4 separate regions of the Homo sapiens genome follow, and regions 2, 3 and 4 are each linked to region 1. Evidence: fine-mapped expression QTL. A gene starts in region 1. Each other region holds a variant in brackets. All regions are shown on one strand. Distances are from middle to middle.

Region 1 (8,291 bases):
CCCGGTTTCCTCAGCCTTAACCTCTTCCCCTCTCTAGGTTTCCTTCCTTGTTTTGGTGGAGCACATCCTTCAGCAGCTTCCTGAGAGAGAAGATAAGGCAGTATCATTTGTTGTTTCACTCTCTTCTCAAACTGATTTTTTGGTAGTTTGGATATAGCATTCTAGGTAAGAAACGGTTTTTCTTCAGAAGGCATTGTTCCACTGACTTCAAATTTCCAGGCTTGAGGCAACTGTGTTGATATTTTGTATCTGGTTTTTTTTTTTTAACTTTTTCTGATTTTTTAAAATCTCTGAAATCCTGTTGGATCTCCTCTTTGTCTCCAGTTTTGTAAAATTTCATGGTGATATGCAGTACAACTCAATTCTACAGATACGTATTGAGAGCGTGTGTTACATAGTTTATCTCACTAAACACTCCAAAATATACAAAAATATCCACAAGTCCTGAGACAGCTAGAAATCTGAGGGAAGTGGGGGAGATAAGGCAAACAGAATATTGATGAGCATGTAGTATCACACATATAAATTATGCATGTAAAACTTGTAAGGGCAACATTTTCACAAATTCCAAGTGTTGATATTTTTAAGAAAGAATAATGCCGGCTCCCAACCTGATTCATTCTGTTAGAAATTTGGCCTTCCCCTGCACTCAACAAACTCCTTACCTCTTAAATCTATAGCTCTGTTTGGCTAGTAGTAAGCTATAAATAAGAGGGTGATGTTTTGGCTTTGAATCCAGGAGTTGCTGATAGCCTCCAGTGGGCTGACTTAACTATCATTCTGCAAGAGGCCACACAAGCTTGAGTTCAATGCCAGAGGTTCGTTCCCTCAAGCTTCCTAAGGTGTCAGTTGGAATAGAGCCAGGAACCAGGAACCAGAGCCCCCTTTCAGGAAGCAATCCCTAAAATGTATTTCTCCTTACCCTTCAAAGTGTACCTATAGGTACTGATAGATAGAACATCATAAAGATAGATATGCTACATAGTAAGAACATCATAAAGATAGATATGCTACATAGTAAGCTGCTCAATACATGTTTTTTCAATGGGATGAATACAGAATATTTCTCTCTATGTAGTATCTACCCAATATTTATAGAGATGACCCCAACACCCTACCCCCCACATTAGGAATCAGCCAAGAGTCATCCCTACCCTGGTGGCTCCCAGAATATGATCATTATTATTGAAAACAGTTTATGCATATTAGCTTGTTTAATTCTCACAGCAATTCTATGAGGCAGGTTTTTGTTTGTTTTGTTTTTTTGTTTTTGAGACAGAGTCTCGCTCTGTCTCTCAGGCTGGAATGCAGTAGTGCCATCTCAGCTCACTGCAGCCTCTGCCTCCCAGGTTCAAGTGATTCTCCTGCCTCAGCCTCCCAAGTAGCTGAGATTACAGGCATGTGCCACCACACCTGGCTAATTTTTGTATTTTTAGTAGAGACGGGGTTTCACCATGTTGGCCAGGGTGGTCTTGAACTCCTGACCTCAAGTGATCCACCCATCTCGGCATCCCGAAGTGCTGAGATTACAAGTGTGAGCCACCGTGCCAGGCTGGAGGCAGGTATTTTTAATCCTTATTTGATAGATTCAGAAACTGAAGAATAGAGAGGTCAAGTGACTTGCTCAAGATACCAAAGCTAAGAATGACAAAACAGAGCTTCAAGTCTAAGCAGACCCAACCCAGATCTCACAACAGATCCAGCTCGTTCCACCACAAAAGCAATTCCAAATCTCACTTGAATCCCAGGTTAGACCCCTTGGAATCTCTCACCAAGCTGAAGGGCTGCCCCAGAAGAGCTCATGGGAAAGGCCACGTGGAAGGAGCACCCATTTTATTGCTGCTTGTTCTGATGCTATTTCACTATAGGACGCTGAGTAACACACCCGCCTCTCCAGGCCTCAGTTTCCTTATCTGTAAAATGAAGTTAAGAATATATTATGAAGAGTTTTGGAAGAGGCCCATGATGACCGAGGGAAAAGAAGCAGTGAGAGGTCTCAGAAGGCCTTCTAAAAGAACAGAGTTCTGTGCTCCCTGGAGAATGATGGGAAACACAGGAGGAATAGTGACAATACGAGATGTTAAATTACTGTAGAAATTCTTAGATCTGAGTCTGAACTCCCTCTCCAAATATTCCATTATAATCCAAGACTCTATAGTTTCTACCAAAAAGTAGGTGCCTTCAAGCAGGGAGTGATCATTTGAATCTAGTTCTCTCCTGGGAATCAGTGGTTCTAACTTGGCTGCACGTTTGGATGACCAGCGGAGCTTGTGACATGCAGATGTTCAGGTCCACCCTCGGAGATCGCTAAATGGGGTGTTGCCCGAACACTTGGGATATTAAGAGTTTCTTCATATGATTCTAATGTGCAGACAAAATGGAGAGCCACTTCCCAGAGCTTCAAGTTATTCATTTTCTGGTCTGAAGTTTAACAAAGAAAAAAAAAATAAAGAAGCAGTGATGCCCAGTAGCTCTCAAAATTTAATGTGTAAACAAATGAATCTCCTGGGCATCTTGTTAAAATGCAGCTTTCAATTCAGTGGGTCTAGGTTGGGCCTGACAACCTTCTTGGTTGTTTTGTGGTTGCCGTTTTGTTTTTTAAGGCCTTAACACTGGAGGGGATTCTGGCCTTCTAAAAAGCTCCCACAGGTGCCCACGCTGCTAACCACAGACTGTGCTTGAATAGCTAGGCTACAGCTTGAATGATTACAGACTTGAACGAGAATTATGGCTCTTCTTGCCAGCTGGGACCTTCAGAAAGAAGTTACTTCACTTCTCTGAGTCTGGGTTTTCTTGTCTATAAAATTTAGGCCAGCAATAGTAACTTTATCACAGAATTCTTGTGATGCATAAATGAGCTAATGCATTCAATTTGTTTAGCACTGTACAACAAATGTTAGCTTTTTGCTAGGATAGCCAGCATTCGCGGAATGCTTACTATGTGGCAGGAATTTTCTAAGTGCATTCGTGTATTAATTCATTCAAGTCTCAGAACAACACGGTGAGGTAGGTACTATTATTTCATCATTTCCATTTTACAGATGAAGAAACTGAAGCGCAGAGAGGTGGAGTTCCTTGGTCTACAGTGGCACCTCATTGTAGCTAAGCTGGTGTTTGAACTCAGGGAGAATTTGGGCTCCTTACCAGGATCCCTCGCCAAGGACAGAGGTCAGTGCAACGAGTCGAGGGTTTGCCCTTTGAAATGGGCTAGGACCGGCAGGTGGCAGACTAGGGCTGCTTGAGTTCAAAGACCGCTTCCAAGACCAAGCCCGGAGCCAGCTCTGTGCTAAGCGTTCCATCACACAACCGCGGACAGCTTCTTCGGCTTCTTCAAACTCTCCTTTCCCTCCCCCGCACCCTAGGGTCTTCGCCCAGAATCCATCAGGAAAAATAGCCCCACATAACAGGTTCAAATCTAACCTCCCCAAGACAAAACCACGTCCGCAGGGAAAGAAGCGAGTAAAGCGAGTTTTCTGTAACTCCCCTTTAACCCAGGAGCGCAACCAGCCCGGGAAATCTACAAATCTCTCTTTAGTTCAGCAAAGGGCTGGGAGCCTAAGCCAAGGGGGAGAAAGTTGGGGAATCCCTCTTGAATTCCCCAGAACACTTAGGTGGCGCCGGGCTTTGGTGCACGCGCGCAGGGCATGCGGACAGGCACCGGAGAGGCTCTATTTTGGGCATTACTTCGGGAAGGCGGATCTTCTTGCAGGGTCCGCTGATAGCGGGTGGCAAATGAATATGAGGGGCAGTGCAAAGGGTGGGGGTTAACCGGGCGGTTTCCATGGCGCCCGGGGCGTGGGGGAGGAATGCATCCCGCAAGCTGTGGCGAAACAACTGCTCTGCCCGGAGGACCGGGCTCGAGAAGGCAAGAGACACTGGGTCGGGGGTGGAGTGGTGGCGGGGGGGTTGGGGGCGGAAGAAGCCAGGCAGGACGGGGGCGGGGCGGTCACGTGTGCCCGACTGGGCGAGGCCCCAAGCTGGCCCGGGAGAGGACTCTGCGGGCGAAGTGGCTGCGCAAGGAGAGAACTTTTCCTGCACAAGGAACGCCTCGTGGGGAGACCCAAGGCAGGAGCGGTCCGGAGCCGGCTGCGGCGTGTGCGGCCGGCCTTGGGACAGCGATCGCCGCGGGTGGCAACAGAGAGCCCCAAGCAAAAGTGGGAGCAGGAGCTTGGAGGTGAGCACAGGAAGCCCCACTTGAGGCTTTTACGCAGCCTCTAGTCTCTGTTTCTTCTGGAATAGGCAAGTGTCCTTTCAACTCTAAGAGACCAGCAGAGGCCACTGTCCCTTAAGACTGCCGGAGTCCTCACCACTTCTCCAGGATTCCAGAGGAGACTGTGGCGATGGTGAATGAAGGTCCCAACCAGGAAGAGAGCGATGACACCCCTGTGCCGGAGTCCGCACTCCAAGCGGACCCCAGCGTCTCGGTCCATCCCAGCGTCTCGGTCCATCCCAGCGTCTCCATCAACCCCAGCGTCTCTGTCCACCCCAGCAGTTCGGCCCACCCCAGTGCCTTAGCCCAACCCAGTGGCTTGGCTCACCCCAGTAGCTCGGGCCCTGAGGACCTCAGCGTGATCAAGGTGAGCAGGCGCCGTTGGGCCGTGGTCCTGGTGTTTAGCTGCTACTCCATGTGCAACTCCTTTCAGTGGATCCAGTACGGCTCCATCAATAACATCTTCATGCACTTCTACGGTGTCAGTGCCTTTGCCATTGACTGGCTGTCCATGTGCTACATGCTGACTTACATCCCTCTGCTCCTGCCAGTGGCTTGGCTGCTGGAGAAGTTCGGCCTGCGCACCATTGCTCTCACTGGCTCGGCTCTCAACTGCCTGGGGGCCTGGGTGAAGCTGGGCAGCCTGAAGCCGCATCTCTTTCCGGTCACCGTGGTGGGCCAGCTCATCTGCTCTGTGGCCCAGGTTTTCATCCTGGGCATGCCCTCCCGCATCGCTTCCGTCTGGTTCGGGGCTAATGAGGTTTCAACAGCCTGCTCCGTGGCTGTCTTTGGCAATCAGGTAGGTAGAACAGTTTGTGAATGTTCCCAGGGGCGTGTGTTAGATTGCACCTAACTATTGGGTGTGGTAGGCTATAATTTGCTGATTGTCCAACAGTGTTTGTGACTCTGGGTGACAGTAACTGGGTGTGACAGGCAGTGATTGTGATGCTGTAAGAGAGGCGGGAAACAAAAGCAGGGGGACCTGCTCTTTCATCCACAGTTGCTCTTGCCCCAGCCAAAAGCATGCTTCTAGAACATACTATACCTTCGCTGTGTCGTTCTCGAACCTGTGTCAGTCCACCAACTTAGACCTGTAATTTCAGGAATGCTCTTCTGTCTGGCAGCAGCCCCTGGGCATCAGACTATTCTGGTGTCATCAGAACTTGGCAGTGCTTTCAGTTGGACCAACCAGCTTTCCTAGAGTGCAGTATCTCCTCTACTGCATAGAATTGCAAAGCCATGCCTGGTGGTGTTTGGCACTGCTTTTACCTTGTTTTACACACAGCTGAAGCCAGGACAGTGGGAGCAGTGCTTTGTGCCAAACTCCTTGCCTGGGATTTAGAGCCAAGTCCAGCAGGATGGAGTAGAAATCTCACTCTGAGTTTCCATGGCCTAGAAAGGGTAGTTCATGTCTTAATCTTTTTCTCTTTCTTTCTTATTGGAAGGAGAAGCTCAAATTCTTTGCATCTCAATGTGGTTATGATCCAGAAAGCTGGGCAGGTTGTGAACCTGAATGCCGTCTCCAAATACTCGAAGCAAATATTTATGGGAATATTTAAAGCAAACGTCCTTTAGCCAGACCACTGCCTCCCAGTCTCGCATCTTTCCAAGCACGTACAGTCCTGGCTGTGTGTTTAACAAAGGATTGGTAATCCTGTCTCACACGTCCATGTGAAGAGACCACCAAACAGGCTTTGTGTGAGCAACAAGGCTGTTTATTTCACCTGGGTGTAAGCAGGCTGAGTCTGAAAAAGGAGTCAGCAAAGGGTGGTGGATTATCATCAGTTCTTATAGGTTTTGGGATAGGTGGTGGAGTTAGGAGCAATGTTTTTCAGACAGGGTGGATCTCAAAGTACATTCTCAAGGGTGGGGAGAATTACAAAGAGCCTTCTTAAGGGTGGGGGAAATTACAAAGTACATTGATCAATTAGGGTGGGGCGAAACAAATCACAATGGTGGAATGAAATCAGTTAAGGCTATTTTCACTTTTTTTGTGGATCTTCAGTTGCTTCAGGCAATCTGGATTGCCTGAAGCATGCAGGTCACAGGGGATAGGATGGCTTAGCTTGGGCTCAGAGGCCTGACATTCCTGTCTTCTTATATTAATAAGAAAAGCAAAACAAAATAGTGAAGTGTTGGAGCAGCGAAAAATTTTGGGGGTGGTATGGAGAGATAATGGGAGATGTTTCTCAGGACTGCTTCGAGCGGGATTAGGGGCAGCGTGGGAACCTACAGTGGGAGAGACTCAGCTGAAGAACGGTTTTGGGGTAAGGGGTGATACTGTGGGGTTGTTAGAAGAAACATTGGTCGTATAGAATGATTGGTGATGGCCTGGATGCGGTTTTGTATGAATTGAGAAACTAAACGGAAGACACAAGGTCTGAAAAAGAGAAGGAGAAAAACAGGTATTAAAGGACTAAGAATTGGGAGGACCTAGGACATCTAATTAGAGAGTGTCCAAAGGGGTCCAAGGGGATTTAGCATAATTACTTGTTTGTTTGGTGAGTTTTTGGGCTCTATTCTTGACAGAGTCCTCTTTTTTAAGTTTGAAGCTGAGCTTGGTGAGGTGTGTTTTTAAAAGACCGTTAGTCCATTCTACCTTTCTTGAAGATTGAGGACGGTAAGGGGTATGAAGGTTTTACTGAATACCAAGAGCCTGAGAAACTGCTTGGGTGATTCCACTAGTAAAGGCTGGTCCGTTATTGGACTGTATAGAGGTGGGAAGGCCAAACTGAGGAATTATGTCTGACAGAAGGGAAGAAATGACCGCAGTGGCCTTCTCAGACCCTGTGGGAAAGGCCTCTACCCATCCAGTGAAAGTGTCTACCCAGACCAAGAGGTATTTTAGTTTCCTGACTCGGGGCATGTGAGTAAAGTCAATTTGCCAGTCCTGGGCGGGGGCAAATCCCCAAGCTTGATATGTAGGGAAGGGAGGGGGCCTGAACAATCCCTGAGGAGTAGTAGAATAGCAAATGGAACACTGAGAAGTGATTTCCTTTAGGATAGATTTCCATGATGGAAAGGAAATGAGAGGTTCTAAGAGGCGGGAACCCACATGGAAGAGGTTATGAAATGACAACAGAATAGAATGGGCCTGTGAGGCTGAAAGGAGATATTTTCCTTGGTCCAAGAACCGTTTGCCTTGTGTGGGAAGAGATTGGTAGGTTGAAGTTTCAGTGGGAGAGTAGGTGGGAGTGACCGATGAGAAGGAGAAAAACTGGCCGTGAGGGACAGAAGTTGTAATGCTAGCTGCTTCTTTAGCTACCATATCAGCATAAGCATTGCCCTGAGTGATGAGATCTGATGCCTTTTGATGGCCCTTGCAGTGTATGACTCCAGCTTCCTTTGGAAGTAAAGCAGCCTTGAGAAGAGTTTTTATTAAGGAGGCATTAATGATGGAGGACCCTTGCATAGTGAGGAAACCTCTTTCAGCCCATATAACAGCATGGTGGTGTAGGATATGGAAGGCCTATTTAGAGTCAGTATAAATATTGACATGTAGTCCCTTCGCAAGAGTGAGGGCTCGAGTTAAGGCAATGAGTTTGGCTTGCTGAGAGGTAGTGGAGGGGGGCAGAAAGTATATGCATCAGGTGTGAGGAAGAAAATAGATTTTGGAAGTTATGAGAACTGTAGAGAGTGAGTTGAGCATAGTTTGTGATTTTGAGGGCCTCTAAAAGTATTAGGGCAGTGGCGGCTGCCACACGGAGACATGATGGCCAGCCTAAAACAGTAAGGTCAAGTTGTTTGGACAGAAAGGCTACAGGGTGTGGTCCCGGCTGTTGTGTAAGAATTTTGATGGCACAGCCCTGTACTTTGGCTGTGTGTTATGAAAAGGGTTGGGATGAGTTAGGGAGATCTTGTGTGGGGGCAGCTTCTAGGGCTGTTTTTAAGGAACGGAAAGAGGAGTGGCGAAAGGATTTAGGATCTATGGGGTCAGCTAGGTTTGCTTTTGTGAGTTTATAAAATGGTTTAGTCAGGATGGTAAAACTAGGTATCCAAAGGCGGAAGTACCTAACCATGCCTAGGAAGGAAAGAAGTTGTTTTGTAGAAGGTGTTGGGGTTTGGGAGATTAGCTGGACAC
Region 2 (6,895 bases), 39 kb after region 1:
AAAGGAAGGTTGAAACTAGCAAAGACAGCTGTATTAGTCTGTTTTCACGCTGTGATAAAGAACTGCTTGAAACTGGGTAATTTATAAAGAAAAGAGGTTTAATTGACTCACTGCTCCAAATGGCTAGGGAGGCCTCAGGAAACTTACAATCATGGTGGAAGGGGAAACAGGCACATCTTACATGGTGGTAGGCAAGAGAGCGAGAGAGAGAGCGTCTGAAGGAGGAACTGTCAAACATTTTTCTAACCATCAGGTCTTGTGAGAACTCACTACCATGAGAATACCATGGGAGAAACTGCCCCCATGATCCAGTCACCTCCCACCAGGCCCCTTCCTTGGCACATGGGGATTACAATTCGAGATGAGATTTTGGTGGGGACACAGAGCCAAACCAAATCAATGGCTAAGAACAGTAGCTGAGGGGTTTGGACCTGCTTCCTTCCTCTGAGAGGGCTGACACCTTGAAGTTCTTTAAGCAGGGACGGTGGGGTCAATGCAACGCCAAGGACCATGAATGTGAGTACATCATGCAGGTCGGGCAGAGGAGAGATCACAGTTGCCTGGGAGAAAGGCAGAAAGGTCCGAAGTGGGACAGGGCAGATTCAAAGAGGACTTTGCAGAAGGGTTTGGGAGGATCTGAGACGAAGTGCATATAAGAGGGCAGAGTCAAAGATGACTAAGATAATTGAGGAAGGACACGCAGATGGAGCCAGAGAAGGAAGTGAAGCAGAACCAGGGTAGGATGATGGTTTGTATGACTTCCCCAAATAAACCAAGTGCATCTTGGGAGTCCCAGTGGCCTCTGCTGCCTGTCACCTCTGCTGTGTGAGAGTGTGTGGGAAAGGGCCAACCCTGCAGACAGGGAGTGAGCCTCAGCCCGATGAGCTAGGTGGTATTTTCTTCCTCTTGTGGATTAGGAAACACACAGAGAGGTCAATTAACTTGCCAAGCTCTAGTAACTGGTAGGGCCGAGATTTGAATTGAGATCTTTCTGACCCCTGACCCTGAGCCCTTAAGCACTATATTAGTATGATGATGTCTCTGAGGAATGTTGAAGCAGAAAGGAGAAGTGGGAGATTCATTTAAAAAAGCATAAGGCCGGCTGGGCGTCATGGCTCATGCCTATAATCCCAGCATTTTGGGAGGCCGAGGCGGGCGGATCACAAGGTCAGGAGATTGAGACCATCCTGGCTAACACATGAAACCCTGTCTCTACTAAAAATACAAAAAAAAAAAAAAATTAGCCAGATGTGGTGGCGGGAACCTGTAATCCCAGCTACTCGGGAAGCTGAGGCAGGAGAATGGCATGAACCCGGGAGATGGAGCTTGCAGTGAGCCGAGATCGTGCCACTGCACTCCAGCCTGGGTGACAGAGTGAGACTCCATCTCAAAAAAAAAAAAAAAAAAAAAATAGCGTAAGTCCAGTTATGGTGGCTCATACCTGTAATCTCAATATTTTGGGAAGCTGAGATGGGAAGACCACTTGAGACCAGCCTAGGCAACATAGTGAGAGACCCCAATTCCACAAAAAATTAAAAAATCAGCCAGGCATGGTGTCATGATCCTGTAGTTCCAGCTACTTGGGAGGCTGAGGCAGGAGAATTGCTTGAACCCAGGAGGCGGAGGTTGCAGTGAGCCAAGATTGCGCCACTGCACTCCAGCCTGGCGACAGAGTGAGACTCTGTCTCAAAAAAAAAAAATTTTTTTTAATTTAAAAAATAAAAATAGCATAGCATGGGCATGAGGCAAGCCCCAGATTAGGTCATAAAGGGACCAAATTTGATGGAAGCCTTCAGCCTCAGGGACTCTGGTGCAAAGAAAGCAGCTGGCTCAATAAAGGGATACATACATATATATATTTTTTAATTGATACATGGCATTTTACATGTTTATGGAGTATGGACTTTTTTGACTCAGCACTAGGAAGATAGCTCCTGAGAGCTCTGAAATCTAAGGGAACATGTCCAGCCATACCCAGTGATTATGCCCAGGGGAGAGGAATGAGCCAATTGGTTTGAGCAAATTGGGGCCCAGCCCTAGGGGTGAGGGTGGGCTTGCCTTTGTCTGAATAGCACAGCACGTTGGGAGAGGAATGAGTTTCAGTAGGTGAGAACCTGTTTGTGGAGGTTGTTGTCTCCTAACAGGAGCAGGATCCACCTTGCCAGTGGCTTGGGTCAAGAGGATAAGCTGCCTGGGACCCAGCAAAAGGCTCAGATGGGGACTACTGGTTCTTTTCCTGTTCCATTTGGACTGAAGCCCTCACCACTGTGTGGACAAAGAGCTCCTTGCCTTGCCTTTTGGGGAAGCTCTTGGATCCTCCCTGGATGGCCTGGCCATATTCTGGCCCCATGACTAGGTAGGATTTAGGAGGGCATCTGTGTGCTAGGGTTCTGATTCAATTGTGACTTAGGGCTTTGTGAATGGTGGGTGGGGACAGTGGATGGTGGAAGAGGATGGGAAACAGTGGTTCTGTGGATCTCAGAGCTGGCATAGCATGTGTGTTGTGTTGTGTAATGGGTTGGGTATGGAAATCTTACCCCAGACGCAGCCTGATGATTTTCTGGTTTTATTCTTGCTCTGCCAAATGCATGAGCTAGAATCACAAGTGAGACATCATTCAAAGTATGGCTTCTCCCTGTCACCTAGGGCCCTCAGACGACATAGACATGTTTTTAACTGTGACATTTGCTCTGGAAACGTTCCTGATTACTGACATTACAGTAGCATTTAGAGGTCACCTTTGAGTTTGCAGAAAGGGTGAAAATAAAATAGAAAATGAAAATTAAATATCCCAGGCTGCCTCTCCATCCCTTCATTCATCACATTTTTTGTTAAACACCCTCTATTGGGATGAAGTAAACTATAGTTGTAAAGCTTACCTAACTTTGAAATACTGTATGTTGAAAACTCTAGCTTTGCTACCTATAGCTGTGTGACCTTGAGCAAGTCAGTTAGCCTTCCTGCATCTCAGCTTCATCATCTGTAAAATTGGGACGATGTTAGACCCCTCTTTCTGGGGTTGTTGTGAGGCTTGAGATACTCTGCATAAAGCTCATACATTTTACTATGATGAGTATTATCATGTGCCAGCCTGCAGAGATCAGTGTGAGCCCTGCCCTCATGGAGCTTATAATCTGGTTGGGAAGACAGATGTTAATTAAATGATCATACAAATATAAAATTACCTATGCAGGAACCCAACCTCATGTAAGGGATTAGAGCAACCTTCCTGAGGAAGCAGGATTTGCACTCAGACCTGAAGGATATCTGCATTGACTAGCTGAAACAGGGCAGAGAGAGATTCTAGTCCAGGTAGAGGAGCTGGTGCAAACTCCCCATGGTCACTTGAAAGACAGAAAGGAGCTCAGTGTAGCAAAGTCCTGAGGAACAAGCTGGTGACAAGGGTCAGACCATTAGACAGAGCCCATGTGCAGAACCTTGTGGGCTGTGCTTAGGATTTTTACCTCTAATTTAAAGCAAGGAGAAGTCACTGCAGGGTGTTAAGCAGGACGTTTTCCAAAGATGGCTGGCTATCATGGAAAATAGCTAGGAGCAGAGCTGCATGGAAGCTATTAGGAGGCATGAGTCATACTTTTTCAGAGGCCAGTATCTCCCCAACTCCCTTGATGAAGATGGGGATGCCTGCATATGAAAATACAGGTACCTAGGACCCACCTCAGACCTGAGGGATAAAAACGGGGTTGGTACTGGTGACGTTTGTTATGGGACAAGTTTGGGAAATACTGCTATGGGATGGGTAAAAATGAAGAGAGCCTAATTTTGAAAAGTATGTTCCAGAAGAGCTAAGACTATGACTTGGTTTGACCATGAATTTTGTATTTTGCCCATGACTTTGTGTTTTGTTGAGAATGATAAAACTAGAACAAGTGCAGGGATGTAAGTCAACTCAAAACCAGTTAGCAGTGACATTCATTCATTTGCCTTCCCAAGGTGGGTCTCCAGGAAAGATGCCAAATGCTCCATGTGCCCCGTTCTCCCACATTTTAAATTAATGTTTCACTGATTCAGGCCCCAGGTCTCTGATTTGTACCCCAGAGGTTTCCTGTCAAATGAATGACAACCCAAATGGGTGAAAATGTAGACTTCCGTGTTGACTAGTATCACACCAACATTTCATGGAAGGCAGCAAAGTGAGCCTGGGTTCTGACATCAGACAGAACTGGCTTAGGAGCCCAGCTCCTCTGCTAGCTGCCTGTGTGACCCTGGGCAGGGTGCTGAGCAGCAGGGTTTTTTTTTTTTTTTTGCCCTCTCTCTTTTTTGTTGTTACAAAGTTATTGGCGATAGGCTGGGTGCAGTGGCTCACGCCTGTAATCCCAGCGCTTTGGGAGGCCGAGGCGGGCAGATCACTTGAGGTCAGGAGTTTGAGACCAACCTGGCCAACATGGGGAAACCCTGTCTCTACTAAAAATACAAAAAT[T/C]AGCCAGGCATGTTGGTGGGCACCTGTAATCCCAGCTACTTGGGAGGCTGAGGTAGGAGAATCACTTGAACCTGGGAGGCGGCAGAGGTTGCAGTGAACTGAGATCATGCCACTGCACTCCGTCCTGGTGACAGAGTGAGACCCCGTCTCAGAAAATAATAATAATTAATTAAAAATAAATAAAGTTATTGGGGTTAAATGAAAAGATAAAGTGTATTACATATTCGGCGCATAGTAGATGCTCAAGATACACTAGGGTATCCTACCCTCTCCTTACTTTCCCATACACATTTTTTTTTCTTACCACTGTGAGTACAATGTAGAAAGAACCTGGACCTTAATAGAGAGATGTGTCATTCCTAGCTTTGTGTAGACAGGATTTTCCACCAACGTTCATCTGCTCATCCATCCATCCATCCATCCATCCATCCATCCATCCATCCATCATGACTATGGAACAGACCTATATACTAGGAACTAGAAATAGACTCTCCCTAAACACTGCTCTTAAGAAGCAGGAAAAAAATATGTATTGAAAAAACAAAAGAGGAAGCAGCTTACAGTCTAATCCTGATGTTTTGGTTTTCCACACTGGGCATAAATGTACCTCCATAGCCAATTTCCTCCTTGAGAAAGGTTACCATGAGACAGTGTTGCTGCCCAGCTGGGGTTACTGTAGGCCACTGCTAAGGCCCACCCATCCAACCTGCTGCCTGGAGAAGGCTTAAAAGCCGGAGTTGGGGTGGAACAGCACTCACTCAAGCTTGGTGTATAGATGGAATGAACAGAGTCCAGCTGCCCCAGAGGAGGAGGGCATACAGTGTAGCACCAGCTGGGAGGATTTCTTTAATGGGGCAGAAGATTAACTGAGAATTAAGATATCCTGTGTTGGGACCTCAGAGCTTTAATTTTCCTTTGGAAATGAAAGAGTCACAGAGCCTCAGATGATGTCTGTATCTTTCCTCACTCTTGCAAATGGGACCCTGGGAGATTCTACTTAACTTCCAGACCTCCAACTCCAAAGTGCTTAGAAGGCCATATATGAGCTGGAGTGGGCCCAGCTTCCCAGCTATGAAGAAGGTTGCATTTGCCCCTCTGCTTGTGGCTGGTTTCTACCTTCAATTAAAGTCTTGAAGATGAGCAGTAGGAAGCCTGACTCTGACAAACCAGTATGACCAAGGATCAGCTAAAGCTCCAAGGACACAAAAGAGGCCTCTGTTCTGCAGAAGCCTGCCTGCCTGGGCCTTTCTCCAGGCTCTTAGCCTGGGATGCACTGGCCAGAGAAGCCAGGAGATCTGCTTTCTCACCTCCACTCTGCTAGAACTCTGGGTGACCCTCAACAAGTCACAGAGCTCAATTAACCTCACTTGGCCTTTGTTTTCTCCTGTAATTATTGGGTTTGTAATTATAATAAACGATTACAGATGAACTTTCAAACTGTAATATTCTATCATTTTAACCCACAAATATGGCCAGTTGTGTTATCTGTTGTATTTTTGTTTTAACATTTTTCCTGCTAACAGATTATTAAGCTCCTTGAAGGCAGAAACTCTGTCTTATACCTCTTGGTACTTTCTAAAATATCTAGCAGAGTACGTTTTAAAGATGCATTTGGTTAATTGATTACATACTGGTATAAAGAACTCTACACAGCAACTATGAGTGACCACTTTTGTGAATATTCCAGAACTGAGAACCACTAGTAAACATCTTGAATGGCTGTAATTGACAGAAGGAAAAACGAATCAAGGGGGTCAGCAGATTGGCAGTTGATGGATGATGTGAAAGTGAGGAGCGAAAGCAAATTGTTTCTTTACCTGTAGCTCTTTCAAGTACAACAAAGGAAAAATGAGACCTTACGACAAAGGAATTACTCATCTTCCTTCACTCTTGGAATCTGAAGCTTGCCTGAGTTCACAAGCTATTTTCCCATTTCCGCCTCAATATTATGTGCAGCAGAAGGGCTTTTGGGAATTGTATCACAGCCAGTCAGTACTGAAGCCAAGCCTTTCTGACCTCGGAAACACCCAAGTCATGTTATCTGTCGGTCACTGGAGTTTGGACTCCAACCCAGATAAGAAATGGTTTAGCACTTTGGGAGGCCAAGACGGGTGGATCACGAGGTCAAGAGATGGAGACCATCCTGGCCGACATGGTGAAACCCGTCTCTACTAAAAATACAAAAATTAGCCAGGTGTGGCGCACGCCTGTAGTTCCAGTTGCTCAGGAGGCTGAGGCAGGAGAATTGCTTGAACCCAGGAGGCGGAGGCTGCAGTGAGCCGAGATTGCGCCACTGCACTCCAGCCAGGCGACACAGCGAGACTCCATTTAAAAAAAAAAAAAGAAAAAGAAAAAAAAAAGAAATGGTTTAATTTGTTGGGGGTGTGTGTGTGTTTATAGCCATTTTTTACGTGCCTATCTCCTATGTGTATAAATTTATGCAGTTATGTGTGACTT
Region 3 (8,291 bases), 30 kb after region 1:
TTGGTGTAATATTCCCAGAGTGCGGTGATGAAGACTTTGGAGACTCTGGGGTGACACAGATACTCACTGGGTCAACCCCTATGCCTGTGCACAAGACTTTAGTCTCACAAACCTGAGACTGAAGGAAGCGGGCAGGGGTAGGGGGACCGGGCGGGGGGCGCCCAGGCTTATCAGGTGTTCACAGCTATTTTCCATCTCCTTGTTCTTGATCTTTTTCCAACAATGCTGTTAACAGGATGTCCTTCCCTTGACTTGAACTCCCCCCAAGCCTCAACATCAAACAGCCCTGTGTGGATTGCAGGATGTAGGTTGGAGTGCCATCAAGGATGATTAAAACAACAACCACCACCACCATCACCATCACCATAGGGTTAAGGTGATATGTGGTGTTTCCTCTTCTTTCTTTCTTGACCTCCTGACTTCTTTCTACCTAGCACCATTCCCAAGTTAACCCAGTGGAATATCTCCCCTCCCTTGATTCTACAGAGCTAAGGGCCTTTTTCTTTGGTGAGTCATTCATAGGTGGGAGGGCACCCTGTAAGCTCTGGTGGCCCAGCCAGACACTTCTGCTTTCTGACTTGATTACAGGCATCTTTCCTTTTTCATGCTGTGCAAAAACTTGAGCTCAGCCTCTCACCCCAACACAATTCAAGACGCAGCCTTGTCCCAGCATGAGCGCAGATAACAGCAGCACCATCTGTGTTTGTAGAAGCGTGAGACAGGAGGTGAGGATAGATCTTACTTCCTTCCCAACTTCTTTGGGTTCAGCCGTGTGTCCGGAGCCTTAGGAGGGAGGAGTGTTTGCTTTGGCTCCCCTCCGATTGCTTCTCCAGAGAGGAGTTGAACACAAGTATTTTTCAGTTCCAGGAGGCTGCTTTTGATTGCACAGCCCTGCCAGCTCCGGAAAAGAGGGACACAGAAGCTGGAGCAAGGTTGGGAGCTGGTTTTCTCCTTTTTTTCTTCTCTCCCCTGGAAACTCCTGATTTCTGCATACAATGACTGGGTTGACATGGCTGGGTCTCCTTTGGCGGCTCTAGAGGTAGCTGTCTGTATGCAAGTCTATTTGCTGTGTTCATCTACTGGAAAACATAGGAGGTGAGCAGGCATAAGGCATTCGTGGGCTTTTGTTTCGTTTTTTGAAACAGTGTCTCAGTCTGTCGCCCAGGCTGGAGTGCGGTAGCATGATCACGGCTCACTGTAGCCTCAACCTCCCCGGGCTCAGGTGATCCTCCCACCTCACCTCATCCTTTCGAATAGCTGGAACTACAGGCTCATGCTACCACGCCTGGCCAATTTTTGTATTTTTTTGTAGAGATGGGGTTTTGCCACGTTGCCAGGGCTGGTCTTGAACTCCTGGGCTCAAGTGATCTGCCTTCCTCTGTCTCCCAAAGTGCTGGGATTACAGATGTGAGCCACCACCCTGGTGAGGCATCCATGTTAAAGCAGGGTTCATTCTCAAGGCTGTTTGTTTGGGCTAGTAGCTGCCTTTTGAGCAATCTAGGCCTCCTTAGACCTTTATCCCGGGCTTCCTGTTGGGTGCTGGACAGGTTTGTGGAGACACCCATTTGAGCACACCCAGGATTCATCCCTTCTCTGCTGAGAAGCTAGACAGGAACACACCTCTCTCCCACCATTCCTGCCTAGGGTACATAGGGGAAGCCAGCAGCTGAGAATTCTCTTGATTTCCTTCCTCAGAGTGGTGGAGATCAATTGTTTCTAAAGTATGCTGCATGAGCCCCTGCACCAGAACCACGTGGGTGTTCATTAAAAATGCAAATTCAGAGACTCACACCTATAATCCCAGCCCTTTGGGAGGCCAAGGCAGGAGGATTGCTTGAGTCCAGGAGTTGGAAACCAGCCTGGGCAACATGGAAAAACCCCGTCTTTACAAAAAATTAGCCAGGCATGGTGGTGCCTGCCTGTAGTACTAGCTACCCAGGAGGCTGAGGTTGGGGGATCACCTGAGCCTGGGAGGTGGAGGTTGCAGTGCGCCAAGATCATGCCACCTCACTCCAGCCTGAGGGACAGAGTGAGACCCTGTCTTAAGAAAAAAAAAAAAGCAAATTCCTGGGCACCAGAGCAGACCCAAGGAATTAGCTCCTCTAGGTTGGGACCCAGGAATATGTATTTTTGATTCTCCTTCTAGGGATTCTGATGCCCACTGAAGTTTGAAAACTCCTGGTATAGAAGCCATGGAAGCTGGACCCAGCAGCCATGTTTGGGGCCTCCAGCAGGATACCTGTCCTCTTTGGGCATCAGCTTTTTTTTCTATAGCAAGAATGCCTGCCTCACAGGGTTGCCATGAAAGCTAAATGAGGCAATGTCTATGTGAAACAGCTCCTGGAACCAAGTAAGCCCTCTGTAAACATTTACTGAGTCCATATCTATCTTTTCCCTCTCTACCAAACTCATGTTCTACAACATGCTAGTGTTAAAAAAGGTAAACGGAGGTGCAATTAAAATTTTTTTAAGAGTTTATTTGAGCAAACAGTGATTCATGAATTGGCTGGCTCCAAACCAGAAGTGGTTCTGGATCATCCTGAGTCTCAGACCATGTCTTCTGGGGATATGATGCTGCTTTGTGCCTTTTTGAGACTCAGCAAGGTTCCATGGGAAGAGAGCAGGGCTGGGAATGGAACCTCAGAAGTCTCGATGTTGATGATTAGCTCTGTGACTTCAAGTTGCTTCAACTCAGTTATGAAGTAGAGAAGACAGTTTGGCCCTGACAGGTCTCTGCTTCCTCGTCTGGACTTTGGGCATCCTGCTCTTGATCTCACTGGGTGGTTTTGAGGCTCTGGTAATATATCGGATGTGTAGGTGCCTTGAAAATGGTGAAATATTTTGCCAGTGTTGACTTTTAGTGCCCTTTCTTGAACTCAAAAAAAAAGGGGGGCTCGGTGTGGTGGTTCACACCTGTAATCCTAGCACTTAGGGAGGTTGAGGTGGGAGAATCACTTGATGCCAGGAGTTTAAGGCCAGTCTTCGCAACATAGTGAGACTCTATCTCTACAAAAATAGTTAAAAAGTTGGTTGGGTGTGGTGGCACATGCCTGTAGTTCTAGCTACTTGGGAGCTAGAGAGGATCACTTGAGCCCAGGAGTTTGAGGTTACAGTGAGCAGTAATTGCACCACTGCACTCCAGCCTGGGCAACAGTGTGAGTTCTCATCTAAAAAATCAAAAAATACTCTGGACTTGCCCTTTGACAGTAGAATAAAAAGGGCTTCTCTAGACACACATCGTGTCCTGCCTGGATTGGGGGCCATGCCCTCCATGTAGAGGGCTCAGCACTCCTGCCTTTACACCGGCTCATGGTTCAGGATAAGCTCCATCATCCTTACCGTAGGAGACTCTCTCAGAGCTTCTGGGTTTCAAAGCCTTCCTCTCATCGGCAAAGAAAGGAAGCTATACTTG[C/T]TGATTTGATCCTCTTGAGCTGAGCTGTTCGGCGGCTCCAGGAATCCTGTGGAGCATTCTGGTTCTTTTTCATTCCAGGAAACTGACCGCTTGCTGCAGAGGGGCCTTTTGCCAGGAGTGGCACGATGCAACGTTTGAGTCTATATGTGCCTAAGATGGTTCCTCTCTTCAGTGTAGGAAAATGGCTGTGGTGGCATAGCACAGAACTGATTCATCCCCACCCTCAGGACATAGGCCTGGGAGGGAGAAGTTTTATCCTGAGGGCATGGTGGTCCTGGCCCTACCAAGTTTTCTCGCAGCCCCTCACAGTTAGCAAGTGGCAATGATCGATGGTAACAAATGGGGATCGGTAGGGCTTGGACAGCCCTTGTGAAGATGTTGGAACCCTTAGGAAGATGTTGCAGTTTCCGTTCGACAAGCTTCTCTCTCCAGAATTCTTATATCTCTCCTTAGGGAGGAAGGTTCCTCATTGTCTTCCCTGGGTATGGCTGCCCCCGTATTCTCATGCTGCCCCACCAAAAGCCATGTCCTTTATTAGTGTGCCCCCATCCTGGGCCAGACCTCTGTCCCTTGCAAATAACCCACACAGTCCCCTGGCTATCACATCTTTGTCTCTGTTCTACAACAAGTTCCTTGAATCCTGCTTGTCCTGAATTGCATCCCCTCCAGCCAGCTTCCCTATGTCTTTCCAGTTGACAGCAGGCAATGAGAGAAATGAAAGCCACTAAAGAAGGCCCTCCTCCCCTTGGCCTGTCATGTGTTTTTTTTTTAGACAATGCACCATAGCCTTTATTTTATTTATTGAACAAATATTATTGAGCATCTACTCTGTGCCAAACAACAAACATTTTCACAGCTGGGGATGCAGCAATGAATGGGAAAGGGAAGGTCCCTGTTGGCAATAGCCCTCTGTTCTTGTAGAGTTCACATTGAAGGGAAGAGAGATTACACTATAAGCCAGTCACACCGGAGCGGCTAATGGTGCAAATGTCAGCCCAAGTAGGAGGGCGGGTGACTTCAAAGCAGGATATTAGGAGATGTTTTTAGCTAAGCAGGTCCCTGAGTAACTCCCTAAATAACAGGGCCAGATCTAATGGTGCTGCAATCTCTCTCTTTCTCTCTCTCAGGGCGTTATAGATGTGAGTGACTAATAGTTTTTTTGGTGTAAGCTTGAGATTTCTTTTTCTTTCCAGCTGTCTGTCTGGGATCCTGAGGCAAGCTTAGTTAACTTATGAAGTTGGCTTCTTAGGAAAAAGCTACATGGGTCCCATCCTATCTATTTCTTGAAGTGCATGCTCCAGAGGAACTGGGTTTTGCCCATGGCAGTCCATGAAGCAGCAACTCTTCCAGGGCCTGCCAGTAAGTAATTGGCAGGGTTTTACCCCTGAAAAAATCAGAATAGGAGGGCTATTACCAGAAAGTCCATCCAGATTTAGAAGGAAACATGGGAGGATTAGAAACATTGGTCGTCACGTGAGCATCCCTTTTAGGAATGCCAGAATGTTGCCTTGCAGACAAAGGAGACAATTATTCTCCTTTGGGCTGTTTTATCTGTCAAAGGTCAGGGAGTGGCACCTTTGAGTTGGGGGGGATAGATGGGGGGTTAGTGTTAAGGGAATGCAGAAGACCGGAGAATCCCTCTGTTGGCTGTTGATTGCTGGTGTCTGGGACAGAATTGGTGGGCAATCAGTGCCAAAGCATTTGAATGGCGCTTTGCACATCGCCTACTTCAAATGTGAAAACTTTGGAGTAAGATTTGCATGATGTGATCTGATGTGATCTCAGCTGGCCGGGTGGTTTGAAAGACACCCACTCATTTTTCCTCCTTCCTAGCCGAGTCATGGGGAAGTTCTGTGACCACTGGCTTTCAGCACAGTCAGCTAGAGGGACATTAATGTATTGAGGTGACAGTGATTTGTTCTCTCACTGAAAGAAAAGGCAGTGGATTCTTCACTTCTGCACCCAAAGTAGACCTAGGCTGGCCCTTTGTGGAGTTCACCATGAGGACAACTTCAAGGGGAACACCAAGTCCTTAAAAGGAGGAGTGTGTGCCAGGAAGCTCCTGAGTTCATGATGACAGAAAGCAAGCATAAATACCGGGCTTAGCTAAAAAAATAAAACACGGCCTTTGTCAGTGTTCCTTTTTTTTTCTTTAATCAGAAAACTTTCCTTGTGAAACTCATTTTCTTCACCTAAACTTAGCAACTTCTCTGTTTACAGCCTAGTGTATCTCTGCTCTTCAGCTAACTTGCACCCCCCACAAAGATGAGGAGGAAACCCAACACCAAGGCTGTAGGTCAAGATCAAGGTATATTACATTATAAACCGGGTGAGAGTGAGCTCCTTGTCTTGCATCTTTCTCTTCCCTTCTGAGTAGGGTGCCTAGTATGCAGCAGGTGCTCAATAAATACTGAGTGTAGGTCTAAGAGTGAGAAGTTGATTGGTCTGCATTCGAATCCCCTCCATGCCTGATCTTGGGGCACCCCAAATGAGAGGTCTTCCCTGTCTGGGGGCTTCCTTAGGTCATTTCATCTGGCATCTACTCGCTTTGGGTGGTTAAACTCTTACAATGCAGCAAACTGCTACTGTGCCCAACTTGTTTACTGCAGAGCAGCCTGGAAAGACTTGAGTGAGGTTTGAGCTGCACAGTTCTAAGAGTTATTTCTTCACTCAGAAAATATTTCCTGAGTGCTGTCTCTGTTCTTGTGATTGTGTCAGACGTGGTATGCGGGAGGGTCACATGAGCAAATGTGAGTCAATGTCCCTGTCCTCAAGGTACTAACAGTTTAGTTTGGGAGACAACACACTACACAAAAAGAAACAAAACTAAGCATGACATAAAAACAAGAAACCTGTAAAGTGTAACTGTGGCAAAGAAACCAAACTGTAGCTGGAGACACCTCTCACCCTTGCTTCCTCCGACAGCTACACATTTGGGGACATTTGAACTACAGAATGGAGCATATGAGACTGGAGGGAGTGTCGGGTGTGAGGGCAGTCACTTTTCTGTGGCATTCACCTTGTCCGTTGAGGGCTTTGGAATCAGATAGCCAAGGGTATGAATCTCAGTTTTGCCAGGAGAAGCTGTTTTGACCTTGGGCAAATTATAGAGGCTTTCTCATCTGTAAAAACCAAACCAGAGGCCAAGGCACAGTGGCTCATGCCTGTAATCCCAGCGCTTTGGGAGGCCGAGGCAGGTGAATTGCTTGAGCCCAGGAGTTCGAGACCAACCTGGGCAACATGGTGAAACCCCGTCTCTCCTAAAAATACAAAAAATTAGCCAGGTGTGTTGGGCGCATGTCTGTGGTCGCAGCTACTTGGGAGGCCGAGGTGAGAGGATTGCTTGAGCCAGGGAAGTAGAAGCTTCAGTGAGCCGAGATCGCACCACTGCACTAGCCTGGGCAACAGAGTGAGACCCTGTCTCACAAACAAACAAACAAACAAACAAAAAAACCCACAAACAAAACCCAAACCAGAGATGATGGTGCCAACTTCAGGGGGTAGTTGTGAGGGCATAGATGAAATATCATGTGAAAAAGCCTTTAGCATGCTGTCTAACACATAGCAGACACTCAGTACATATTCACCTCCTTCCTCCTGGTTTGAGTAACATTTAAGACCAGCGCCTTTAACCTAATGGATAAGAGTACAGATGAGTACTGATGGCCAGAGCTTGAAGTTTAGCCTCATCGCTTACTGTTATGTGACCTTGGGCAAGCTACTTAAATGCCAATTTCCTCCACTTTAAAATAGACATTAGGGGAGCACGCCTTCTATTTTATGGAGTGAAGTGTTGCCCCCCAAAAGAAAAAAATTAATAATTAAAAAATAAAATGATTCAAAGAGTATATATATTTATAGGGTGCTTTGAGCACAGTGTATCAGCTCTCATCGCTATTATTATCTTCCCTAGGGATCAATGATTGTAGGCTATCCTAATTTCAGTAGCTGCTGCTTCCTGCATTTCTCTAACCTCTTTCACCCAAAGAACTGAGGGAATCCAGGAGTCAGGGCAGTAAAAGCCACCAGCATAATCACAGCTTTCAGGACAAACCCTGTGACGGGGGCGGGAGCTTGAAGGAAGTCTGGAGTTGGCCAGCTGTAACCCTACTCCCTAAGTTCTTAGAGATCTTAGCTTAGCCTTTAAATCCATAAACCCCCTTCCTGAGTGATTTTCCACCAAATCAATGAGGTTGTTTAGATTGTCTTTGTCTTTGAAGGCCTGCTACCTCCTTGATCCCGAGTTGACCTTTTCAAAAGAAGCCTTGGATTTGGAGATTTCACAAATAACAGTCATATGAGCGGTCTTTGCCTGGACATTATCGGTTACCGTGGAGCCGCCTGGCATTCCTGGGTGCTCGGGGCTCATTCTCATGATTAAGCTCAAGCTCTGGGTTCTTAGTTTTGCAGTGTCTCTCAGCCCCAGCAGCCACCTTGGACTCTCCTTGCTTCTTTCTGGGGCATCCGCAGACTCAGTCCCAAGACCCCCTGCCAAACCTCGACTACATGTCCCAAGGTAGCTTGCCTGGCAGAGTGCCTTCACTCTAGCCTGGTCTCCTCCACTTGAGGTCTTGGAGCCCTTGTTTATTCTCCATGTTGCTAGATCAGTTATTCACTAGCAGGTATAAGCAAACATCTAAATGATGCTGGCCAAGGGGTAGAGAGCAGTATTTATAGCAACAGAATTATGGACTGGAGTGTGCAGACTTGCCTAAATAGTACCAACTTTGTGGTGTTTCAATGCACACAGCACTGTGTGGGCATGGGCAATGAGTGTGGAAGTCACTTCCACATAATTCCCCAGGTGGACATGGTCCTGGGAGATGGAGCTTGTGTTAGTCCATTTTGGATTGCTATAAAGGAATATCTGAGGCTGGGT
Region 4 (8,291 bases), 50 kb after region 1:
AAAATTAGCCAGGTGTGGTGGCATACGCCTGTAGTCCCAGCTACTCAGGAGGCCGAGATGGGAGAATTGCTTGAGCCCAGGAGGTGGAGGTTGCAGTAAGCCGAGATGGCGCCAGCCTGGGTGACAGAGCGAGACTCCGTCTCAAAAAAAATAAAGAAAAAAAAAAAGAAAATGGCATAAAAAATAAAAAAGTGAATGGTATCAAAGGACCATTCACTCAGCCTCAAACAATGAGAAGCAGCTTCAAGAAGGGGGCTGTTAAGGGTTTAATTAAAGAATTACTATTTCCTTTGGGAGTCTTAGCTCCTCTCAGATGATGGAGCAGCTTTCATTCATGTGGAACCAGCTCTTCTGGGGTGGGACCATGGGAATTTTCAGCCATCTCTGTTTTTTTCCTTTCAGTGTTCAAGGAGAAACCTAAATATCCCCCCAGCAGGGCCCAATCCCTGAGCTATGCCTTGACCTCTCCTGATGCCTCATACTTAGGTTCCATCGCCCGGCTCTTCAAAAATCTCAACTTTGTGCTGCTTGTCATCACCTATGGTAAGGTGTCAATGTGTCTAGGAATGCATTCGAGCTGGAAATGTTAGATGAGAGGCCTGATGTGTCTTCATATATTACTCTTTCTAAATCCCAAATGTGCATGTAAAGCTGTTGTCTAGGGTCAATCCAGAGGACCCAGCTATGCCCAAGGGCCTTTGCATGTGTTGTAAAGTCCACCTAGAAAATAATTTCTTCCCATGTCAGGTTATCTGACAAATGCCTGTTGGTCCTCCAAGTCTCATCTCAGTATCACTTTTGTAAAGCAGTAGTAGGTAACTTTCCCTCTCTTACCATGCTATTCCTTGTACATCTTAACACCTGTCATTAAAAAAAAATTTTTTTGCAGGTCTATTTCCCCATTAGACTGAACTCTCTGAGTGTGGATTTATGTTTTTCATCTTTATAGTTCCTCAGCAGTGTCGGGCCTCGAGTGACTATTCCAGTAGTTACTGAATTAGTTAATTAATTAATGCATGCATGCATATATGTGTCTTGCCACATGAGTCACTCCTCAACCAGTCCTCCCTCATCCTGTAATTGACTTCTATTTTATCTGAATGCACAACAACATCCCTCTTTCATTTCATTTGCTTGGCTCTTGGAAAGATAAATTGGAATCTTTATGCTAACATGTTGGCTTTCTTTCCCCGCATGGTGTTTTCTGTATCTTATTTCAAACCTGTAATAAGATTGTTGGATCGAACAAGGGCAAAGACAGAGCCTCATAGCATTCCACTAAAGAGTGTCCTCCAGATGAATGCCAGTCTATTAGTTAGTACCCTTAGTTCAAGCTGCTACATATCTACCCACCTTTATTGCTATTCAGCCTACATTTGGTCATTTAATCCACCAGTTAAAGTTTGATTAAAACTAAGCGTTAGCAAATCTGTGACATGTACCGTAACCATATGAAACAAAGAAATGAAATTGGTTTGACATGACTTATTCTTAGTGAAACCCCAGTTGGCCATGGCTTCATGTTGCCTATAGACTCAAAAGCTATTGTTTTATGTTTTATAACAACAATAGTGCTTACTATGTGTCAGGTGCTTTTCATATCTGATTTTATTTAACTTCCAGTACACCTATGTGATGTTGGTACTAAAATTATCCCTATTTAACAGATGAGGAAACTAAACTCAAAGTGGCCAAATAACTAGCCCAAGGTCACACAACTTTCAAGTGGCAGAGCCAGAGTTCAAATACAAGTTTGTCTAACTCCAAAGTCTCATTCTTTTGCTTTTTTTCTTTTTTTTAAGACAGAGTTTGCCTCTTTTTGCCCACACTGGAGTGCAGTGGTGCGATCTGGGCTTACTGCAGCCTCTGCCTCCCCGGCTCAAGCAATTCTTCTGCCTCAGCCTCCCGAGTAGCTGGGATTACAGGCACATGCCACCATGCCCGGCTAATTTTTGTATTTTTAGTAGAGCCAGGGTTTTGTCATGTTGGCCAGTCTGGTCTCAAACTCCTGGCCTCAGGTGATCTGCTCACCTTGGCCTCCCAAAGTGCTGGGATTACAGGTGTGAGCCACTGCGCCCAGCCAAAATCTGCATTCTTAATGCCTGTTCTGTAATTGCTGATGTTCCTTCCTAGAATTGTGCCAGAGTTTCATTTTAGGCTCAACAATACATTTTATCTCAACTAAAATGTTTATCTGCTGAAACACTAGATAAGAGGTGGCTTCATCCTGGTAGAGGGGCAATCCTGTTTTTCAGGCATACATAGAAATTAGGTGACCTTTCATCTGGAATAGCTGTAGGTTTGTCTTCAAGATCTTGGTCCTCCGTTCCTCATTTCCTCCAGTTTCTCAATTCTCTGAGTATGTCTCCCCATTCATCCGCAAAATAAAGACAAAGTTTCCAATGCTTAGAGAAGTCCAACTAAGGAAGTTACAAGTTCCCCATCACCGGAAGGTATTCAAGCATAGATGGGACTAACCACTTGATGGGAATGTTGTAGGGGATCTCAGGCTAAAGATGGATAGTGAAACCAGATGGCCTTTGGGGGCCCTTCTAGACTCAGGATTCCATGACTCTAAGAGCTTTTACTTTCGCTAGAGTTGGACATCATGAGTGCATTGACCTCTGACAACCATAAATCTTGCTGCATCTAACAAGAGGATATTTGAGGCCTACCTGGGATTCTAGGGCAGATGAGTGCTTCATAAATATTTTCTATAGCTGAAAATGGTGACAGTGGTGATAACTGGGCAATGGTCCCATTCCAAAGGCTGTGGTCCTCAGTGCTGGAGGTTGTTGGTCTTAGGGCCAGGTCACTGACTCATGAGAACAAGAAACAGAGACAAAATGTACCAGAAACATTGTTGCTCCTGGTCATCGAGGGGTCAAGCCTAGGCCATGCTGTGGGGA[G/A]CAAAGCTACTCCTCCTCCTTCCTCTCACATGCCTGTTTGCTTACGTGGTCTTTAATCTGACAAAGTAGTTTTAATCCTGTACTTCTGGACACTTTTCCTTATCTATTTGATTAAATGATAACCGAGGAAATAAATAGGAAAGCACTTCTTGAATGGTGGAGTAAGGACCTTAGAAAATCCGCTCCTCTATAGAAACAAGAACAATGGCAAAAAATATCCAAATGAATTTTTTCAGAACTTTTAACAAATGGCTTGCAACAATCCAAGCAGCATTTATTCAAGAGAAATGGCTAAATATCAGTAACAACAGTGGGCCTTGTGTTTTCACTTGCCCTATTCCAATCCCTTTCTCCCTACTACAGCCTTGCAGCCATGGGGCTGTGACATCCAGCAGCCTCGCAGCCGTGGAGCTGTGAAAACCAACTGTCTCATAGCCATTGGAGGGAGCAAAGTCGATTTGGAGCTCCACCCCTGAGAATTACTATTTGACCTACCTAGCAGGTCCCCGGAAAAGCCCTATTCATAGGACATGTTGCTATTTAACCTGACTTGGAGTTTGCTAATGGGAAAAGCCCTATTGCCAGGGCATTTGTTGAAAACAGTCAATGGCACTGCTTAACATTGTAGCTGCCTGCAGTGGGGATAACAGTTGGGGTGAACAAGAGGCTGCCTGAAAATGCTGAAAGGAAACTCTGGAGAATGTGATGTCCATATGGGGTTCTTTGCCAAAAAGAAAATGATTCTTAGACTTAATCACAGATTTGAAAAAATTTTTGACGGAGGAATCATGTTAATTGCTTTACATGCATTATCTCATTTAATTTTCAAAACAAACCCATGACATAGCCCTTTGTTTCATTTTATACATGAGGAAACTGAGGCTCTAGAGTTTTAGCTTCTTGCCTATAGGGCGAGAACTATAGGCACTTACTCCAACTGTTAATCTTTGCTTTCTTTTCCTACTGTGTTTGTTCCAAATTAAAACAAACAAAAACAAAAACAATTTTTTTTTTTAAACAGAGTCTTACTCTGTCGCCCAAGCTGGAGTGCAGTGGCATGATCTCGGCTCACTGCAACCTCCACCTTCCAGGTTTGAGCAATTCTCTTGACTCAGCCTCCCGAGTAGCTGGGATTACAGGTACCCGCCACCACATCCAGGGAATTTTTGTGTTTTTAGTAGAGACAGGGTTTCACCATGTTGACCAGGCTGGTCTCGAACTCCTGACCTCAGGTGATCTGCCCGCCTTGGCCTCCCAACAAAAACAATTTTCTAAAATGCCCTCTATCAATTCAACTAGATGCTTTGAAATCCTCCAGAATTACCCCAGTCCTCCTAATCCCCTTGCAGTTTCAGATTGGACTTTGAAGAACAAAATGGTTCATACTTTTTACATTGTACACATAGTGTTCATATTTAGCTCTGAATTATATGCATTTAAAGAGCATGTGGCTAGGAATTAAGCAGGCAACAGCATTTCACAGGCACATGTACTGGACATGGGTGGACATGTCTTGGGTTAAGAGCCTTGAGTGCTGGACTCGTAAGTTCAGAGTTGGCTCATAAGAAATGGGAGGTCTGAGTTTTGGTGTCAGCTCTGCCAGATACTGAGTGTACCACCTTCATCCATCTGTGCTGCCCATCCTTCATCTCTTTAATACTCTCCACCCCCACTAGAAAACAGTAATGATACTTATTTCCCATTGGAGTGTTCTGAATGGAAGTGAAAGCTTTTAATGCAGTTGAGAATAAAGACATGGCATGCCTCCAGACTGCCAGTCTGCCATTGCCAGACTGCAATGCTATTGCATTGGTAAACTTACTGGTTTCCAGCGTTGCTTCTTTGGTCCAAACCAGATTTCACTAAGAGGGGGAGTAACTGTCCTGCAGCTGGTGGTATTGTATTTGTAGTGGCTTTTCAAGTGGTTCTCCCAGCTGATGAGTCAACTGCCCAGAACTGAGGTGCAGCGATAATTGAAGGCCTTGGAGGAAATCGAGGGTCCAAGTGTTGCTGGCTTTTCCCTAGACTTCTGGCTACACTCTTAGAGGTAGGGTTGAGAGATAAAATAAAGACCATCCAGTTAATCTGAATTTCAGATAAACAACAAATACTTTTAATATAAATATGTCTTATGCAATATTTGTGGCATATTTATACTAAGAACTATTATTTATTATAAATGTATTTATTTGCTATTTTTTTTCAAAATCTGGCAATTCAGTTTAGAGGGGGAGAGGTGCAGGGGTGGAGCTCGTGCTTGATGTTGCGGAAATATCATATCAGTAAGAAACTGCCAGTAAAACACCCTTCCTCTCTCCTTTAACTTTGGCAATGTGGGAAGACTCAGGGAACCAGAAATTCCACCTGTCTGCCAGTGTCTTTGGTGTGTTTCACAGTAGGGTAGGGTGGGATGGAGAAAGGAACCTTCCTCTGGCTACCTTCTCTTTGTGTCTCTGGTGTGTTTCACAGTAGGGTAGGGTGGGATGGAGAAAGGAACCTTCCTCTGGCTACCTTCTCTTTGTGTCTCTGGATCTTGCATTCACATGGCCTCCTCTAATGTCTTATTATCAATGGCATAACAACTGCCCTGTTGAAAAGAATTGTTGAAAAGGCTTCTCTTCTAGAAAATGGCATACTCAAAGGGCGTACTTTTCCCATAGTTATGCCCCAGACTTGCTGCCAGCAAGATTATTCATGCTTCTGAATAAACTTGCAGTGCCTCTGGCATCTGAACTCAGAGCCTCAACTTGTGTATCCCAAGGTTCACCTTCCCTTGGGGCTCTCAGCACTTTATCATTGCTCCACCTACATGGACCTAGGGAGGGGGCTTCATGCCCCCTCTAAAATCCTGGCTGAGGAGTGGGCATAAAATCCTCCAGATTCCTGGGAGCTTTGCCGAGGTCAAGCTGGCCCTTTAAAACAAGGACTAAAGGGAAACGCAGAATAACCAAAACCCAAAGATATGATCTGGGGTCAGTGTTTCCCAGACTTCCCTGAGGATAGGACCCCCTGGGGTGCTTGATTGAATGTGTGCATAGATTTCTGGAAATTCAGATTCAGAAAGTTTGGGTTGGGGCCTAGGAATCTGCTTTCTACCAGCATCCCAGATAATTCTGACTTGCAGCAGAGTTGAGAACCTCTGAGGTAGCTGTGTGATGGGTCTTGAAGCGCCTTCCCATCCCAGCTGCCTCCATGTTAACCCCACCACCTGGGAGCCTGGGTCTGGTCCCTGATCTTTTGTATCTTGAAGGCCATGTATTCTCAAATTCCAGACATTTTAACAAGTGCATTGGGGTTTTATTGTTGTAGTTGCTAAAGATGCAGATTCCTGGGCCCCATTCCAAGAGATTCTGATTCAGTAGGTCTATGGTAGGGCCTCAAAATCTGCAGTTTTAAACTTTAAGGAATTCTAATGTCAGTAGTCACCGGAACACAGTTTGAATAAAATTGTTATTGGCTGGGCTTGATGGCTCACACCTGTAATCCCAGCACTTTGGGTGGCCAAAGTGGGAGGATCGTTTGAGGTCAGGAATTCAAGACCAGCCTGGTAAACATAGCGAGACCCCAAAGAAATTTTTTACAAAGAAAAAAATTGTTTTTGACAAAGGAGAGAAAGAGACTCAGAATGATGACAGAGTCCTTTCTGCCTCTCTAAAGCCTGCCTCCTCAGTAAGTGGCACTACTCCCAGGTGACTGATTCCAGGAATGACCAGGCCTTTCAGGGAAGATCACATTTTCTCTTCCCTGGCCCAGCAGGCTCACCTTGCTGAGGATGATCAGACCTGAATAGAATGCAGTCACCTGTACTCCTGTAAGGGGTACTCACACAGGAAGGAGCATGCATTTCATTCCTGCCCTTCTGTGTGGGATGCCCAACCCCTTTGTTTTGGCAGTAGAGTGGACTTACGCTGGTTAACTGTGTCTGGCAAACTTTGACAATATGGTGAGGGACATCTAGACCAAAGATGGATTCAGAAAACATACATAAGCTCCTAAATCCTCTAAGGTGGGGCTGCAGAAACAGTGGAACAGATTGGCAGCCCTCCAGGATGAACCCCTGCTCTTCCTTCCCTCTCGCCGCCCTTTAGCCCCGCTTCAGTCTGCTGTCTGGCCTGGAGCAGGGATGGCTGTTGTTTAACCACATTGCTCTAGGGAGCCAGTGCTTCCACCTGGAGCACGATCAGAATCACCTGGGAGGCTTATTCAAATGCAAATTGCCGGGGGCCTCACTCCCAGAGTTTCTGCTGCAGTAGGTCTGGGGTGGAACAGAGACCACACTTTGGAAACTATTTCACTAAACCATTGAGCCCCAGAAAAACCACTCAGCTTCAGCAGTATGGGCCAACCTGTTCAGGACTCTGTTCCCCAGGTCTTTATCAGGACCAGTGAGCACTGGTGTATTTTTTTTGCTCCCAGTCCTTCTGGATAATTTCCTTTCTTTTTCTGTGGATTCTGCCATCCTTGGCTCATCCCAGTTAGCAAAGCAGCTGTTCCCCTGAAGCTAAGCCTGAGTTGGAACATTCCTTGCCCTTTGCAGTATCAGGCTAGGGCAGGCAAGAGGCTTAGAGAGGAGCGGGAGGAATGAATGGGAAGACGGGAGGAGACTATTTTCTTTCTTCTCCTTCCCACGCTCCACCTCACTTGGCTTTTCAGGAATGTCTCCTTACGGGATCTCTTCACTCGGAAATGGACTTTCTAAGTGGCTGAGTATGTACTATGAAGGGCAGATGGGAATGCTGCTTGAATGAGATGTTGCTGAGAGCCTCATGATCATTGCAACCATCAGCCTGTCAGTTGTAGTGATGTTTGGGGACATGTCTGGGTTGGTTGGCCCACTGTGGCTCACTGTGCTGCTCACTGTGTGCACAGTTGGCCCACTGTGCTGCTCAGGAGACTGCATTGAGCCCAACCTTGTAGCATCCCTGGGGTGAACTGCTGGGAGAGGCTGGGACATGAGGAAATTGTTCATGACCTGAGCTGGGAAAATCTGATTCAATAATCAGCTTTGTGAGGATGTAAAGCAGAGTGATTAAGATCAAGAAATCTGGAGCCACAGGGCCTGAGTTCAAATCCAGCTCCATCACTTAATACCTGTGTGATTGCAAAGCAAATTATTTCCCATTTTGCAAGATAATTTGACCTTCGCTTAACTTTGTATCTTTTACTCCCTGGGAACCTGATAAAGGGAGTACGTCAACTACCTTTAGGCAACATTGCTTATGATAAAAATGTCCTCTGGTGATACAAATGGACAGAGAGACCTATTCATTCTTGTGGGAAGCCATTCTTTGTGCTTCTTGGAGTACAATGACTCTTTTCACTGGCCTGTCACTTATGGGGCCCCTGGAAGCTACCCCTACGGAATTGTTACAAGTAATAGTG

Which allele goes with the higher level. Positions count from the first base shown, and alleles are read on the strand shown. Sizes are in standard deviations (SD) of each study's normalised expression. Not every link is listed here.
For the expression in subcutaneous fat of the gene that starts at base 3,988 in region 1, allele C in region 2 goes with a lower level than allele T (small effect, 0.16 SD a copy in GTEx).
In carriers of allele G in region 4, the expression in left ventricle of the gene that starts at base 3,988 in region 1 tends to be lower than with A alone (large effect, 1.0 SD a copy in GTEx).

Evidence for each region. PIP is the estimated chance that this variant, and not a neighbour inherited with it, causes the effect.
Region 2: its variant is the best candidate, but not a certain one, in a credible set for the expression of FLVCR2 in subcutaneous fat (GTEx, PIP 0.52).
Region 3: its variant is the best candidate, but not a certain one, in a credible set for the expression of FLVCR2 in monocytes (TOPMed, PIP 0.63).
Region 4: its variant is the best candidate, but not a certain one, in a credible set for the expression of FLVCR2 in left ventricle (GTEx, PIP 0.69).

Annotation. Positions count from the first base shown.
Region 1 is chr14:75,574,633-75,582,923 of GRCh38, forward strand. It overlaps FLVCR2 (FLVCR choline and putative heme transporter 2), which reads left to right and starts at 3,988. Exons shown (of 10, transcript NM_017791.3): 1 at 3,988-5,009. The coding sequence starts at 4,341. It overlaps FLVCR2-AS1 (FLVCR2 antisense RNA 1), which reads right to left and starts at 4,956. Exons shown (of 3, transcript NR_110552.1): 1 at 3,145-4,956; 2 at 1,773-1,913; 3 at 269-461. RefSeq lists an enhancer at 3,094-3,153 and a silencer at 3,864-3,933.
Region 2 is chr14:75,614,638-75,621,532 of GRCh38, forward strand. The region is part of intron 1 of FLVCR2 (FLVCR choline and putative heme transporter 2); the gene reads left to right. Among named protein-coding and RNA genes, the nearest start is that of FLVCR2-AS1, 38 kb to the left of the region's middle. The variant T/C (reference allele first, on the strand shown) is at 4,439.
Region 3 is chr14:75,604,900-75,613,190 of GRCh38, forward strand. The region is part of intron 1 of FLVCR2 (FLVCR choline and putative heme transporter 2); the gene reads left to right. It also overlaps the pseudogene RNA5SP387. Among named protein-coding and RNA genes, the nearest start is that of FLVCR2-AS1, 29 kb to the left of the region's middle. The variant C/T (reference allele first, on the strand shown) is at 3,413.
Region 4 is chr14:75,624,210-75,632,500 of GRCh38, forward strand. It overlaps FLVCR2 (FLVCR choline and putative heme transporter 2), which reads left to right. Exons shown (of 10, transcript NM_017791.3): 3 at 403-543. Among named protein-coding and RNA genes, the nearest start is that of ERG28, 33 kb to the right of the region's middle. The variant G/A (reference allele first, on the strand shown) is at 2,910.